Regions from separate parts of the Homo sapiens genome. Here region 1 is linked to region 2. A link means that fine-mapping ties the variant in region 2 to the expression of a gene that starts in the linked region. Tissue or cell type: monocytes after LPS. Region 2 holds a variant in brackets; the other region holds the start of a gene. All regions are shown on one strand. Distances are between the middles of the regions.

Region 1 (6,630 bases), 24 kb before region 2:
ATTATCCATTTAATCTATTCAAGAATTATCCATTAGCCTTAAGTAAAAAAAATAGTTCCCCATTACTCAAAAATCATATTTGCACATGTAAAACGGGGCAGAATCTTTTCCTGGGGGTGGGCAGTTGTACTGAAGGGACTCCTTATGAAAAATCTGAGTTTGAAATTATAAATTTATAACCTTAAAAGGCCAGAAAACTGCTTAAAAATTAAGAATGCAGCTGAATATCTCACCTGACAGAGATGTCATTTATTCATAAGTTGTGGGATGTGTTTTAACTCTAGTTAGGACAGGCTGGTTCCCCCCTCCCCACTACATTTTTTTAAAATAGTAAAATGATCAACAAACAAATAAAACTCAGTTTTTCTCAACACTTACAAAACAGAACTGTGAATATTCCAAGATTTACAAAGCCATTGTCTGGTTGAATGGTTCAATTCAATCAAATGTTATATGCCCAATTTTCCAAACACTGTATATGTACAGCGCGAATTTTGATTAAACGCCACTGTTTGTAAAAATCTGAAGGAATATTTAAGATTCTACATGAAATTCTAGAATGAAAACGTTTTGGAAATTCAGAGGCAATCAATTGTGAAATATCTATTTTCAGCTGAAGAAATTTTCCATCCTGCAGACTGGCATGGTTGAACTGCTGTGTTGACTAGAAAAAAAATTGGCCATCAGTTTGAATTAATATTTATAAGTTCTCTTTTAAAAATGTTATGATTTCCTTTAAAAATGTAATTATAATCCACTTGAAAGTGGAGGTGTATGCCTACAATATAGCATATTGAGTAATAAGAAGATGTTATACACAGCACATTCAGAAATATCTTTGTCCTCTTAAAAACAATTCCCAGCACAGATTTAGCTTCTCCATGGAATCGGTTTGCAATCACTTCAAAATGTCCACCTCCTTCAATTTCTTTACCACTTAAAGATAATTTCATTGAAAGGCAGCAAAATATCTAACTGAACTAACAATCACCACATCTTCAAACCTCTGGAGTGAAGTAAAACCCCAATGGCAAATTCATTATTTTTAAAAATCATGGACTGACCTATTGTGATTTTAAGGTATAAAGAAACCTCTCCTAAAGCAGGTGGGTGGGCGTAAATCACTAGTTAAAAATAAATTGCAAAAGAGAAAAAACCCGTCAAGGGGTAAGTTGCTTCTCTACGGTGGGAAGCGTTAGGATGAGGCAAAGCAGGAATGGTCATTTCCCAAGGCTCTACTTTAGTGGTCAATTAGGGCGCTGGGGCTAACGCTAAGTAAACACGTTCGAATTCTTCGGAACCTCTACCTGGGTTTGGGGTCACTGAGCCACCTTAGTCTACTCAATCTTCTCGAACAAGAAAACTTGGGTGGTTGGGGTGGGGAACAATTCGTTATTCTTGCAAGATAAACCAAACCTGGCTGGGATCATCTGCCTACTTCTGAGTTTTCTCCCCAAACCCAGGCCGGGGGCTGGAAGCGGCATACAAAAGGCAGGCGACATGACCTCTCCGGGTCTACTCTCGGGCCAGGCGGAAGGTGGGAAGACCAACTCCGCTACCCCTCCCGTAGAGGGCCCGCTTCCGGGCGGGGGGCAAGGAGCCCCCAAGGCGAAGTCCCCTCAGGAAGTAACCCCAGCTCCGCAGCTAGGACGCAATCGGGAACCAGCCCACTCCTGCTGACTGACGCCAAGGGAGAGTTCGGGACGGGAGCGGCTCCCTCCCAGATCTGTAGCCGGCTGGGGCTCGCGGGGGGCTCCCTTCCCGGGGAACGCGCTCCCTTCTCATCTCCCAGACCTCGGCCGGGGGGAGAGGGAGGCAGGAGTTCTGCGGGGGCCTCACCAGGCGGAGCTGGCTAATTTCGTCGTAGGACATAAAGCTGAGGATGTTCTCGATGGCTACGATGGGCAGCGCCACAAGCGTGTTGTTTTGAGGCAGCTGGTCCGGAGCCAGCGCGGGGGCTGGGAGCGCCTGGGACCCCGGCTGCGGGTGCTGTGGCGCGGGCGGTGGAGGCTGTCGCTGGGTAGAGCCGGAGGCCAAAGAGGAACCGCCGTCGCCTTGGCCGCCGCCTCCTTCCTCTGCCATCCGCTCCTCCGCCGCTGCCGCCATCTTGGGGGCTTGATTCCTTACCCCCACAGCAAGGGGAACAGGGACACTTCCGGTGCGTCACTTCCTCCTCCTGCAGCCGCCGGGGAAGGGGTACCTGGAGGAGTGGGGAGGAGCCTGTGGGATAACAGGCGGAGAGAGACTCACAGGGTGCCTTTCAAGTGGAAGTCAGGGAAGATCATGTAAACCTCAAGAAAGGTGGTCATCCTAGACCCTTTTGTCTAAGATTAGTAACTACTTGAGAGCAAGGAAACCCTATTTATTAAAATGAACTTCACTGTGCAGTTTTCTTAAAGGGCTTCCTGACAATGGATGATAAAGATGTTGCCTAGTAAGTGTAGATGGAAATAATGTAGTTAGACTAGCACCATTTTTTAGGAATCATAGAAATGATTGATTTAGGCAAATAAAAAGGTATGAAATATCAATAAGAACTACAACATGAATGAACCGTGAGAACATATTAAGTGAAATAAGTTAGACACAAAGGACCACATATTGTATGATTGCATTTATATAGGATGTCTTAAATAGGCAAATCCATAGAGATAAAAAGTAGATTAGTGGTCGCCAGAGGCTGGGGGAAATGGGGAAATGAGTGCTAATGGGTGAAGGGTTTCATTTTCGGGGTGATAAAAATGCTCTGGAATTAGCGGTGATGGTTACACAACCGTATGAATATACAAAAACCACTGAATTACTATATACTTTAATGAATTTTATCATATATGAATTGTATTCTAATAACTGATTTAGGCAAGAATCATCAAAAGGTACTAAAACTAGGAGGTAAACGTGATGAGGAACATGATATTTCCATAGTCTCAAAATAACTCCCCATAAATTATGTATTATTTACAAAGATGAAAAGAAATAGTTTACAAGGCTGGGCGTGTTGACTCACGCCTGTAATCCAGCACTTTGGAAGGCTGAAGCGGGAGAATCACTTTAGCCCAGAAGTTGGAGACCAGCCTGGGCAACGTGGAGAAACCCCATCTCTACAAAAAATACAAAAAATTAGCCAAATGTGGTGGCTAGGTCCTATGGTCCTAGCTACTCGTGAGGCTGAGATGGGAGGATTGCTTGAGCCACACGAGTTCGAGGCTGCAGCGAACCGTCAGCCTGCCACTGCACTCCAGCCTGGGCAACAGAGCGAGAAAAAAAAAAAAAGTTTACAATAGAGAAATTTGGTGGACACCATCATAACCAAATGATCAAGACTAACGCCACAGTTATAGGAGGAGCCAATATCATATGCCTATTAATATAATACCCTGAAAAGGACGCAGCATAATGTAGTATTCATGCAAAAAAAGCACGAGTTGCGTTTGAGGTAGACATCGCTAGATGACGGGCCCATAAATTATTCAAAAGTGTTAACGTTACAAAAGACAAAGACTAAGGGTTTGTGGCAGATTAAAGGATACTAAAGAGACAGGGCAACTAAATCTATGGGTGATCCTGGATGGGATCCTGGATTAAGGAAGAAATAACTATGAAGAACGTTATTGTGACAACTGGCAAAATTTAAAAATGGACAGTATATTAGATTATACTGTAATCATATTAAATTTTTCGATTTGGGTAATTGTATTATGGTCATATAAGACAATGTCTTTGTCTTTAGGAAATACACATTGAAGGATAAGCATGCTTCTATTATTTTCCTTTATTTATTTATTTATTTTTTTGAGATGGAGTCTTGCTCTGTCACCCAGGCTAGAGTGCAGTGGTGCGATGTCAGCTGGTTCGAGCAATTCTCCTGCCTCAGCCTCCTGAGTAGCTGGGATTACAGGCGCCCACCATCACGTCTGGCTAATTTTTGTATTTTTAGTAGAGACGGGATTTCACCATCTTGGCCAGGCTGCTCTCGAACTCCTGACCTTGTGATCCACCCACCTCAGCCTCCCAAAGTGCTGGGATTACAGGCAGCAATGGCGCCCGGCCGCATGCTTTGTATTTTACACTTTGCTTTCTTGTGCTTCTCAGATATTGCGTTTTTAAAAATGAATTGAAGGTTTGTGGCAACCCTTGAGCAAGTCTCTTGGTGCCATTTTTCCAACAGCATGTGTTCACCTTGTTTCTTTCTGTCACATTTTGATAATTCCTCTGATATTTAAAACTTTTTATTATTGTTATATCTGTTATGGTGAGCTGTGATCAGTAATTTTTTTTGTTTATTGAGGCAGCATCTTGCTCTGTTGCCCAGACTGGAGTGCAATGACAGGATGATGGCTCACTGTAGCCTCCACCGCCTGGGTTCAAGCAATCCCCCAACCTTGGCCTCCTGAGTAGCTGGGACTACAGGTGTGTGCCACCACACCTGGATAATTTTTGATTTTTTTTTGTAGAAACAGGGTTTTGCCACGTTGCCCAGGCTGGCCTTGAACTCTTGTGCTCAAGCAGTCTGCCTGCTTTGGCCTCCCAAAGTGTTGAGATTACGAGAGTGAGCCACCATGCCTGGCAGATCAGTAATCTTTATGTTACTATTGTAATTGTTTTGAGGTGCCACCAATCATACCCATATAAGACGGCAAATTTAATCAATACATGTAGGTGTTCTGACTGGCTGCTGTTTCCCCATCTCTCTTCTTCTCCTGCAGCTATGGTGGAAATAGCAAGAGAACTGGAATTAGAAGTGAAGCCTGAAGATGTGACTAAATTGTTGCTGCAATCTCATGATAAAACTTGAATGGAGGCCGGGTGCGGTGGCTCACGCCTGTAATCCCAGCACTTTGGGAGCCCCAGGTGGGTGGATCACCTGAGGTCAGGAGTTCGAGACCGGCCTGGCCAATGTGGCAAAACCCCTTCTCTACTAAAAGTACAAAAATTAGCCAGACGTGGTGGCATGCGCCTATAATCCCAGCTACTCGGGAGGCTGAGGCAGGAGAATTGCTGGAACCTGGGAGGCAGAGGTTGCAGTGAGCTGAGATCGTGCCACTGCACTCCAGCCTAGGCAACAGAGCGAGATTCCAGCTCAAAAAAGAAAAGAAAAAAAGCCAAACTTGAATGGATTGAATGGATGAGGAGTTGCTTCTTATGAATGAGCAAAGCAAGTGATTTCTTCATATGGAATCTGTTCCTGGTGAAGATGCTGTGATCATTATTAAAAGACAACAAAGGATTTAGAATATTACATAAACTTAGTTGATAAAGCAATGGCAGAGTTTGAGAAGATTGACTCCAATTTTGAAAAAAGGTCTACTGTGGCAAGATGTTATCAAACAGCATCATATGCCATGGAAAAAATCTTTGTGAAAGAGTCAATCAGTGTATCAAACTTCATTGCTATCTTATTTTAGAAAATTGCCACAGCCACCCTAACCTTCAGTAACTACCATCCTGATCGATCAGCAGCTGTTAAATTGAGGTAAGACCCTCTACCAGCAAAAAGATTATGATTCACCAAAGGCTCAGATGATTAGCATTTTTTAGCAATAAAATATTTTAAAATTAAAGTATATCATTTTTTAGACATAATGCTATTGCACACTTAATAGACTACAGTTTTATATAAACATAACTTTTATATGCACTGGGAACCAAAACTTACTTGTGTCACTGGGTTTATTGCACTACTTGCTTTATTATGGTGGCCTGTGTGGTCTAACTCTCAATATCTCAGAGGTATTTCTGTATTTATGGGTAGAGGGAAATGATGCCTCAAATTACTTTCAAATGGTTCAAGTAAATAGATAGAGAATGAGGTTAATATAGCAAATACAGCAAATGTTATTAATTGATGAATTTGGTTGAAGGGTATACCAGAGTCTTCCTTGTACTATCTTGTAATTATTTCAGAAAAAAAATTTAAAGGTTGCCTAAACTTTCTGTATGTTTGTATACTTATAATATCCTATGACAAAGATAAAGGTATACAAGTCACTATTTTTTTTTAGACAGGGTCTCACTGTGTTGCCCAGGCTGTAGTGCAGTGGCATGATCATGGCTTACTGCAGCCTTGACCTCCTGGGCTCAAGGAATGTTCCTACCTCAGCCTACCAAGTAGGGACTACAGGTGTGCGCCACCATGCCTGGCTACTTTTTAAATTTTTTGTAGAGATGAGGTCTTACTATATTGTCCAGGCTGGTCTTGAACTCCTGTGCTCAAGCAATCTTCTCACTTCAGCTTCCCAAAGTGCTGGGATACAGACATGAGCCACCATGCCTGCCAAATCATTAAATTTTGAAGCTTTCTTCTCCCTAGTGCTTTGGTCTTATTCTTAAAGCTTCCAATATGTCCTTTCTTTTGTAGCTTTCTTTTGGAATCTAATGTTTGCACAGTAGATGTGAAAACTGCAGAAAAAACTAAGTATGACTAAAGGTTAAGGGAAGTGGGGGCAACTGAAGCAAAGAAATTAATTGGTGGTGTTGAGCTTGTTAGAATTGGCATCCTTTCCCCATTCACTTGGCATGTGAACAATTATCATTTTACCTATGATTGTTGCAAAAGTTTTGAAGTTGTTCCTTTGATTCTCCTACTTTGGGTTGTTTAGCATTCAACATATGCTTTATGATTGACTCTTT
Region 2 (7,259 bases):
AATACCAGGTCAGAATGAATTTGGTGCTTCTGAAAGAAAGCCAGGGGGTTGGAGGATAATGAGAGGGAGGTAATAGGCAAGAGATAGATTACATAGGGTCTTCTAGGTCATAGGAAGATGATTACATTTTATTCTAAGGGCTCAAGGCAGCTGAACATTCAGACCAGAACAGTTGGTCTGTTGTATAATACAGAATTTTTCTGGTCTTTGGTCCTGGTTCCTGAGAGATAACCTTTAAATCCTTGGAATTTCCTGAGTTATACCAGTGTCTTTGTTCCTCTTGGTGGGCCCCTCAACCACACCTGAATTTACGCTAATGAGATGACTCATGATGGACCCCTGTATAGTTTTAGTATAGGGATTGGCCATGCTGGAATGAACGACTACGTGATTAGAGGGTTGGAACTTTCAGCTCAACTTTCAGGGAGCAAGGAGTTTGGAGGTTGAGTTTAATCACAGCACATGACCTACATCAATCATGCCTACATAATGAAATGCCAGTAAAAACTCTGGACACTGAAGTTTGTGGTCTTTTCATCAGGAAATAATATATTCTGACTTGAAAATGTCACCAGCGGCTGGGCATGGAGGCTCACACCTGTAATTCCAGCACTTTAGGAGGCCAAGGTAGGTGGATCACCTGAGGTCAGGAATTTGAGACCAGCCTGGCCAACATAGTGAAACCCTGTCTCTACTAAAAATACAAAAATTAGCCGAGTGTGGTGGCATACATGTGTAATCCCAGCTACTGGGGAAGCTGAGACAGGAGAATTGCTTGAACCTGGGAGGCGAGGGTTGCAGTGAGCCAAGATTGCGCCACTATATTCCAGCCTGGGTGACAGAGGGACACTCCGTCTCAAAAAAAAAAAAAAAAAAAAAAACAACCCACAAAAAAACAACAACCACTAAAAGAAAATGTCACCAGCTTCTGTGTGGATATTGAATTGGAAGAGGATATCGGTAGAATAGTCAGGAATCTATTTTAATAATCCAGGGCAGAGACAATGTTGGCTTGCACTAGGATGGTGGCAGTAGAGATATAAGGAAATAGTTGGATTAGGATATATTTTGGAGATAGATCTATTAATAAAAGCATCTTTGATGGATTGAATGTGGTAGATGAGGTAAGGAGAGGAATCAAGGATGATTTCCAGTCTTTTGAGCACGAAGGTGAAGGATGAGTCCTTTAAATGGGAAAAAGAGACTAAAGGAGGCACAGGTTTCAGCACAATGAGAATAATCAAAAGTTACATTTTATTTTTATTTTTTATTTTTTTGAGACAGAGTCTCACTCTGTTACCCAGGGTGGGTGCAGTGGCAGTATCTCAGCTCACTGCAACCTCCGCCACCCGGGTTCAAGTGATTCTCTTTCTCTTGCCTCAGCCTCCTGAGTAGCTGGGACTACAGGTGTCCACCACCACGCCTGGGGAATTTTTGTATTTTTAGTAGAGACAGGGTTTCACCATATTGGTCAGGCTGGTCTCTAACTCCTGACCTCAGGTGATCTGCCCTCCTTGATCTCCCAAAGTGCTGGGATTACAGGTGTGAGCCAGCACGCCCAGCCAAGAGTTACATTTTAGTCAGGCCAATTTTAAAATATTCATGGTCAGGACTTGAAAGGAAAGAAAAATGGACTCATTAATTCATTTAGCAAAAATGTGTTGATCATCTTTAATATGCCAGGTATTGCTCTAGGCTCTTGGGATACAGCAGCAAACAAAACATACAAAATACATTCTAGTTAGGGGAGAGAAAAAACACATACAATCTGTAAGACAAGTTAAATGAAGAAAGATAAAGCAGGACTGAGGGATAGAGAGAGAGAAGGAATGCTATTATATGGGCCAGTCAGTGATGGCTTCTCTGATGAGGCCTCGGGATATCTGGGAGGATGTCAATGTTATTGAAGGCAAAGGCACAAGTCAAAGGTCCTGAGGCGGAAGTGTGCTTGGTGTGTTTGAAAAACAGCATAGAGGGCAGTGAGCCTAGTGAGCATAGAGAATTGTAATGAGAAGCGTAGAGGTGTGTGCGTTGAGGGTGGGAGAGAATATGTGAATGTGAGGGAGAGGGTTGGGGACAGATCACGTAGGTTCTTTTGCAGGCCATGTAAGCACTCTGGAATTTGTACTGAATTAGAAAGGAAACTATGGGGGGTGTTGAGCACAGGAGTCATGTGAGCAAAAATATTACAAATGGACCACTCTGGTCATGGCAGGGAGAATAGTGGAGAAGCCAGGAGGCTATGAAAGCGGGAGACCAGTTCAGAGTTTCCTGCATCAGTGAGAGGACAGTGGCTTGCACCAGGATGGAAGAGGGAAAAGTACTAAGAAGAGATCAGAGTCTGGGTGTCCTTCAAATGTAAATGAAAATAAAGAAAATGTAGATTAAATAGACAGAGCAGTCAAAGATGACTCCAAGATCTAAATAAATGAAAGAATGGAGTTGACATTTCCTGAGATGGGGAAGACTTGAGGAGCAGGTTTAGGGCAAGGGTTCTCTTTTGAACATGTTGTGGTTCCTTTTAAAATCAACTTAACAGATGGGCGTGGTGTCGTGTGCCTGTAGTCCCAGCTACTCAGGAGGGTGAGGCTGGAGGATTGATTGAGCCCAGGTGTTCAAGTTCACCTTGGGCAACATAGTCTTAAAAAAACCTTAATAATGGTACAATTTGCATATAATAAAGTGTACACACTTATTGGTACAGTTTGATGAATAATAAATATATATCCTCATACAACCACCGCCATACTCAAGATATAGGACATTTTCATTACCCCGAAAGGTTTCCTTTTGCCCCTTTCCAATCAGTTTCCATTTCCCACAGCCCCTGCCCCAAGCAACCACTGATATTCACTCCATCACCATAGATTAGATTTATTTGTGCTAGAGTTTTGTTAAATGGAATTATAGGCTTGGGGGAAAGGAAGATGAGTTAGACACAGCCCACTGGCTGGTACAATGTTTCCCAACTTTTTTTTTTTTTTTTTTTTGAGATGGAGTCTCTGTCACCCAGGCTGGAGTGCGGTGGCATGATCTTGGCTCACTGCAACTTCTGCCTTCCAGGTTTAAGCGATTCTCCTGCCTCAGCCTACTGAGTAGCTGGGATTACAGGCGCCCGCCACTATGCCTGGCTAATTTTTGTATTTTTAGTAGAGACGGGCTATCACCATGTTGGTCAGGCTGGTCTTGAACTCCTGACCTCGTGATCTTCCTGCCTTGGCCTCCCAAAGTGCTGGGATTACAGGTGTGAGCCACCATGCCCGGCCAATTTTCTAAACTTTTAAGTCCATGTCTTCTTTTATACCTTCTTCATTATCCTTTTTTTTGAGACAGGGTTGCACTCTGTCACCTGTGGTGTCAGAGGCTGGAGTGCAGTGTTGTGATCATAGCTCACTGCAGCCTCAAACTCATGGGCTCAAGCAAACCTCCTGCCTCAGCCTCTGGAGTAGGTGGGACTACAGGTGCACACCACCAAGCCCAGCTAACTTAAAATTTGTTTTTGTGGAAATGAGGTCTTGTGATATTGCTCAAGCTGATCTTGAACTCCTGGGCTCGACTGATCCTCCTGCCTTGGCCTCTCAAAGTGTTTGTGAGCCACTGTGCATGGCCCCTGTTATCTTTCATAATCATAGATATCTCAGGTCCTGTCCTGAGGTGCTGAGTGTATCCACAGAGAGGCACACCCTCATTTCCCCTGCTTTCTTATGACTCTGAGAATCATTGTTTCTTTGTATTCTCAGCAGCCAAGATTGTTTTTTGCAAATGTTACTTGTAGAAATTTTTACAGGGCTAGGTATGGTGGCTCACACCTTTCCCAGCATTTTGGGAGGCCAAGATGGGCAGATTACTTGAACTCAGGAATTTGAGACCAGCCTGACCAACCTGGCAAAACCCTGTCTCTACTGAAAATACAAAAATTAGCCGGGTGTGGTGGTGCACACCTGTAATCTCAGCTACTCGGGAGACTGAGGGAGGAGAATTGCTTGAACCCGGGAGGTGGAGGTTGCAGTGACCCAAGATCGTGCCACTGCACTCCAGCCTGGTCCACAGAGGGAGACTCCCTCCATCTAAAAAAAAAAAAGAAAAAAAAAAAGGAAAAGAGGAAGAAGTTTTTACAATGAAGATATGCATTTTTCCTTTAACCAATATAAATAATAGTATAACATTATAATGTGATTTCAATTTACATAGTCCACTTCTCCAGGTTCTGAGAAGTCCCCTTCATGGTTAGTTCTTTCCTTTGAGACTCACTTGTCTTTTTTTTTTTTGAAACAGTGTCTCACTCCATTTGCCCAGGTGGGAATGCAGTGGCATGATCTCAGCTCACTGTAGCCTTGACCTCCTGGGCTC[A/C]GGTGATTCTCCCACCTCAGCCTCCTGAGTAGCTGGGACTACAGGCACATGCCACTATACCTGGCTAATTTTTTGTGTTTTTAGTAGAGATAGGGTTTCACCATGTTGCCAGGCTGGTCTTCTGAGCTCAAGGAATCTGCCCTCCTCGGCCTCCCAAAGTGCTGGAATTACAGGCATGAACCACCGCGCCCGGCCTTCACTTGTCTATTCTAATAATCACATGAAATTAGACAGCCATAAGCATTGATCTGCTAAAGGACATTCTGGGAAGTTGTGCTGTGTTTTGCCTTATCCTGCCCCACTTTAAATGCTTGGTCTTTTATGCATGCCATTTAAAGATCACAGACCAAAGCAATTACTCATGTCTCTGTTTTATAACCTTTGGCTTCCTGAATTATTTTTAATAGTTCTTCCATAATCATACAATAGGTGCATTTATAAGGCCATTTGAATCTAGGAAATAATGAGCATTCAAATAGGCGAGCCAGAGACTTCAAATAGCTACGTGTGGCAGGACATTTTCCTGCTGGGCTGTGGAGGGTGGTTTCAGAGGATTTAGATTTCACAGCAAAGAATAAGTATCATATTGCAACTTCAAAATAAGAAGCTGTAAGTGTTTGAATCTAGTGTGTCTGAATAGCATATTTACAATTTGACTAGGGCCAGATGCAATTATGCCTGTAATCCAGCACTTTGGGAGGTCAGGGAGGGAGGATCACTTGAAGCCAAGGAGTTGAGGCAGACTGGGCAACACAGTGAGAACCATACCTCTACAAAAAATAAAAACATTAGCCAGCTGTGGTGGCACACACCTGTAGTCTCATCTACTTGAGAGGATAATGCGGGAGGATCACTTGAGGCTGGGAGTTCAAGGCTGTAGTGAGCTATGATGACACCATTGCACTCCAGTCTGTGCAATAGAGTGAGACCCTGTCTGTTTTCTTTTTTTTTGAGGTGTGTTATATATAAAGTTTCGGTGCCACAAAAGGAATAACACTCGAGTATAAAATTTTCTTTTTAATTCTCAGCAAGGCAAGGTACTTCTATATAGAAGGGTGCACCCTTATAGATGGAACAATGGTGAGCACACACTTGGACAAGGGAGGGGAAGGGGTTCTTATCCCTGACACATGTGGCCCCTGCTGCTGTGTCGTTCCCCTATTGGCTAGGGTTAGACCACACAGGCTAAACTAATTCCGATTGGCTAATTTAAAGAGAATGACGGGGTGAGTGCTTTGGCAGGAGTCAGGGCAGAGCAGGTAGCAGGTAATTGGAATGAGTTAGGGTGGAGCAGGTGATTGGAATGAGTCAGGGTGGAGTAGGTAATCGGAAGGAGTCAGGGTGGAGGGTAATCGAAAAAGGTTGCTTTACGAGGAAGTTAAGTTTAAAAGTAGAAGGCAAAGAATTGAACATACTGACATATTAATTATTTGAAAAGAAATTTAGAACTCATATCTAACAAGGTGGAGTCTCGCTCTGTCGCCCAGGCTGGAGTGCAGTGGCATGATCTCTGCTCGCTGCAACCTCTGCCTCCCAGGTTCAAGCAATTCTTCTGTCTCAGCCTCCCGAGTGGCTGAGACTACAGGCATGCGGCACCACACCTGGCTAAGTTTGTATTTTTAGTAGAGACAGCGTTTCTCCATGTTGGTCAGGCTAGTCTCGAACTCCCAACCTCAGGTGATCCGCCCAGACCTTCCAAAGTGCTGGGATTACAGGCGTGAGCTTTGGAAGGTCGAGGCGGGTGGATCACTGAGGTCGGGAGTTCGAGACCAGCCTGATCAACATGAAGAAACACTGTCTCTACTAAAAATACCGACTTAACCAGGTGTGGTGAGGCTTGCCTGTAATCCCAGCCACTCGGGAGGCTGAGGCAGGAGAATCGCTTGAACCCGGGAGGCAGAGGTTGCGGTGAGCCAAGATCTCACCACTGCACTCCAGCCTGGGCAACAAGAGTGAAACTCCGTCTCAAAAAAAAATTAAAAAAAAATAATAAATTTGACTGGGGGAATAACAGAATGCAGAACATATATATATATATAGAGAGATGAGGGTTAGTTTGTCAGCATGAAGGAAGCAGTTTCTTTATTGAGGGAACCACACCCTCCTTTTATTCCCCCTCCTTTTCTGCTTCGTTGTAGCCATTTTAGTGGCTATGGTGATTTTATACCTGGTCTTCATTTTCAGCCCCAAATTTTACAGATTTTCCACTAATGTTCAAACCACAAAAGAGCAGGTATCAGAGAGTAGGAGGAATAAAAAAATTGAGAAATAAAATTTAAAAAGAAAAAAAGATAAGTTAGGCATTTCATCAATATTTCTAATGATTCTAAAATCTGTGCATGTGTTGGACCATCAGCAGGAAGCTGGATAGCATTGTTTCAGCATCCTATAGATATTTTTGAGGTGGTTGATGACTGTATTACACAGTGTCTCCTTTGTGGGAGCCTACAGGAAAAATTTTCTTCTGGTTTCAACTAGGGATAATATATTTTTTTTCCTGTGCAACTACTTTCTTTAATCTTTTGAGAGCACTGTGGACCATGTAATTGATCATATATATTTTTTCTTTGCCTGGAATCTTGAACATTCAGAGTTAACTTTGTAATTTCTATCTCTCCGGTGAATAAACCCTCATAGCTTTCATTTTGCTCTGAGCTTCATTCTATTTTTTTAATTTTTATATTCTCCTTGTTCCAATTTACTCCATTGATTTTATTTTAATTATGACGTACTGTAGAATTATTGAGATACTTTATATCCTCTTTTGTAACAATGACATATGAATAGTAGTTAAACCTTAGGGGAAGCAACTCTTTGAAAGTGGAACTTTGGGAAATTAATGTGAGGCTTTGCAGTGTGAGGTTTTTTGTTTTTTGGTTTTTCTTTTGTAGAGATGGGATATCACTCTG

Alleles and levels. Alleles are on the strand shown, and positions count from the first base shown. SD is a standard deviation of normalised expression in the study named.
With allele A in place of C in region 2, the expression in monocytes after LPS of the gene that starts at base 2,125 in region 1 is higher (large effect, 1.1 SD a copy in Quach 2016).

Evidence for each region. PIP is the estimated chance that this variant, and not a neighbour inherited with it, causes the effect.
Region 1: it holds the start of FBXO28, and the variant in region 2 is fine-mapped to the expression of FBXO28 in monocytes after LPS (Quach 2016, PIP 0.95).

The regions. Positions count from the first base shown.
Region 1 is chr1:224,109,606-224,116,235 of GRCh38, reverse strand. FBXO28 (F-box protein 28) reads right to left here and starts at 2,125. Exons shown (of 5, transcript NM_015176.4): 1 at 1,840-2,125. The coding sequence starts at 2,106. LOC105373056 (a long non-coding RNA gene) reads left to right here and starts at 2,196. Exons shown (of 3, transcript XR_007066897.1): 1 at 2,196-2,301; 2 at 4,707-5,473. RefSeq lists enhancers at 2,063-2,132, 2,273-2,332, 2,353-2,482.
Region 2 is chr1:224,085,082-224,092,340 of GRCh38, reverse strand. No RefSeq gene overlaps it. Among named protein-coding and RNA genes, the nearest start is that of FBXO28, 25 kb to the left of the region's middle. The variant A/C (reference allele first, on the strand shown) is at 4,351.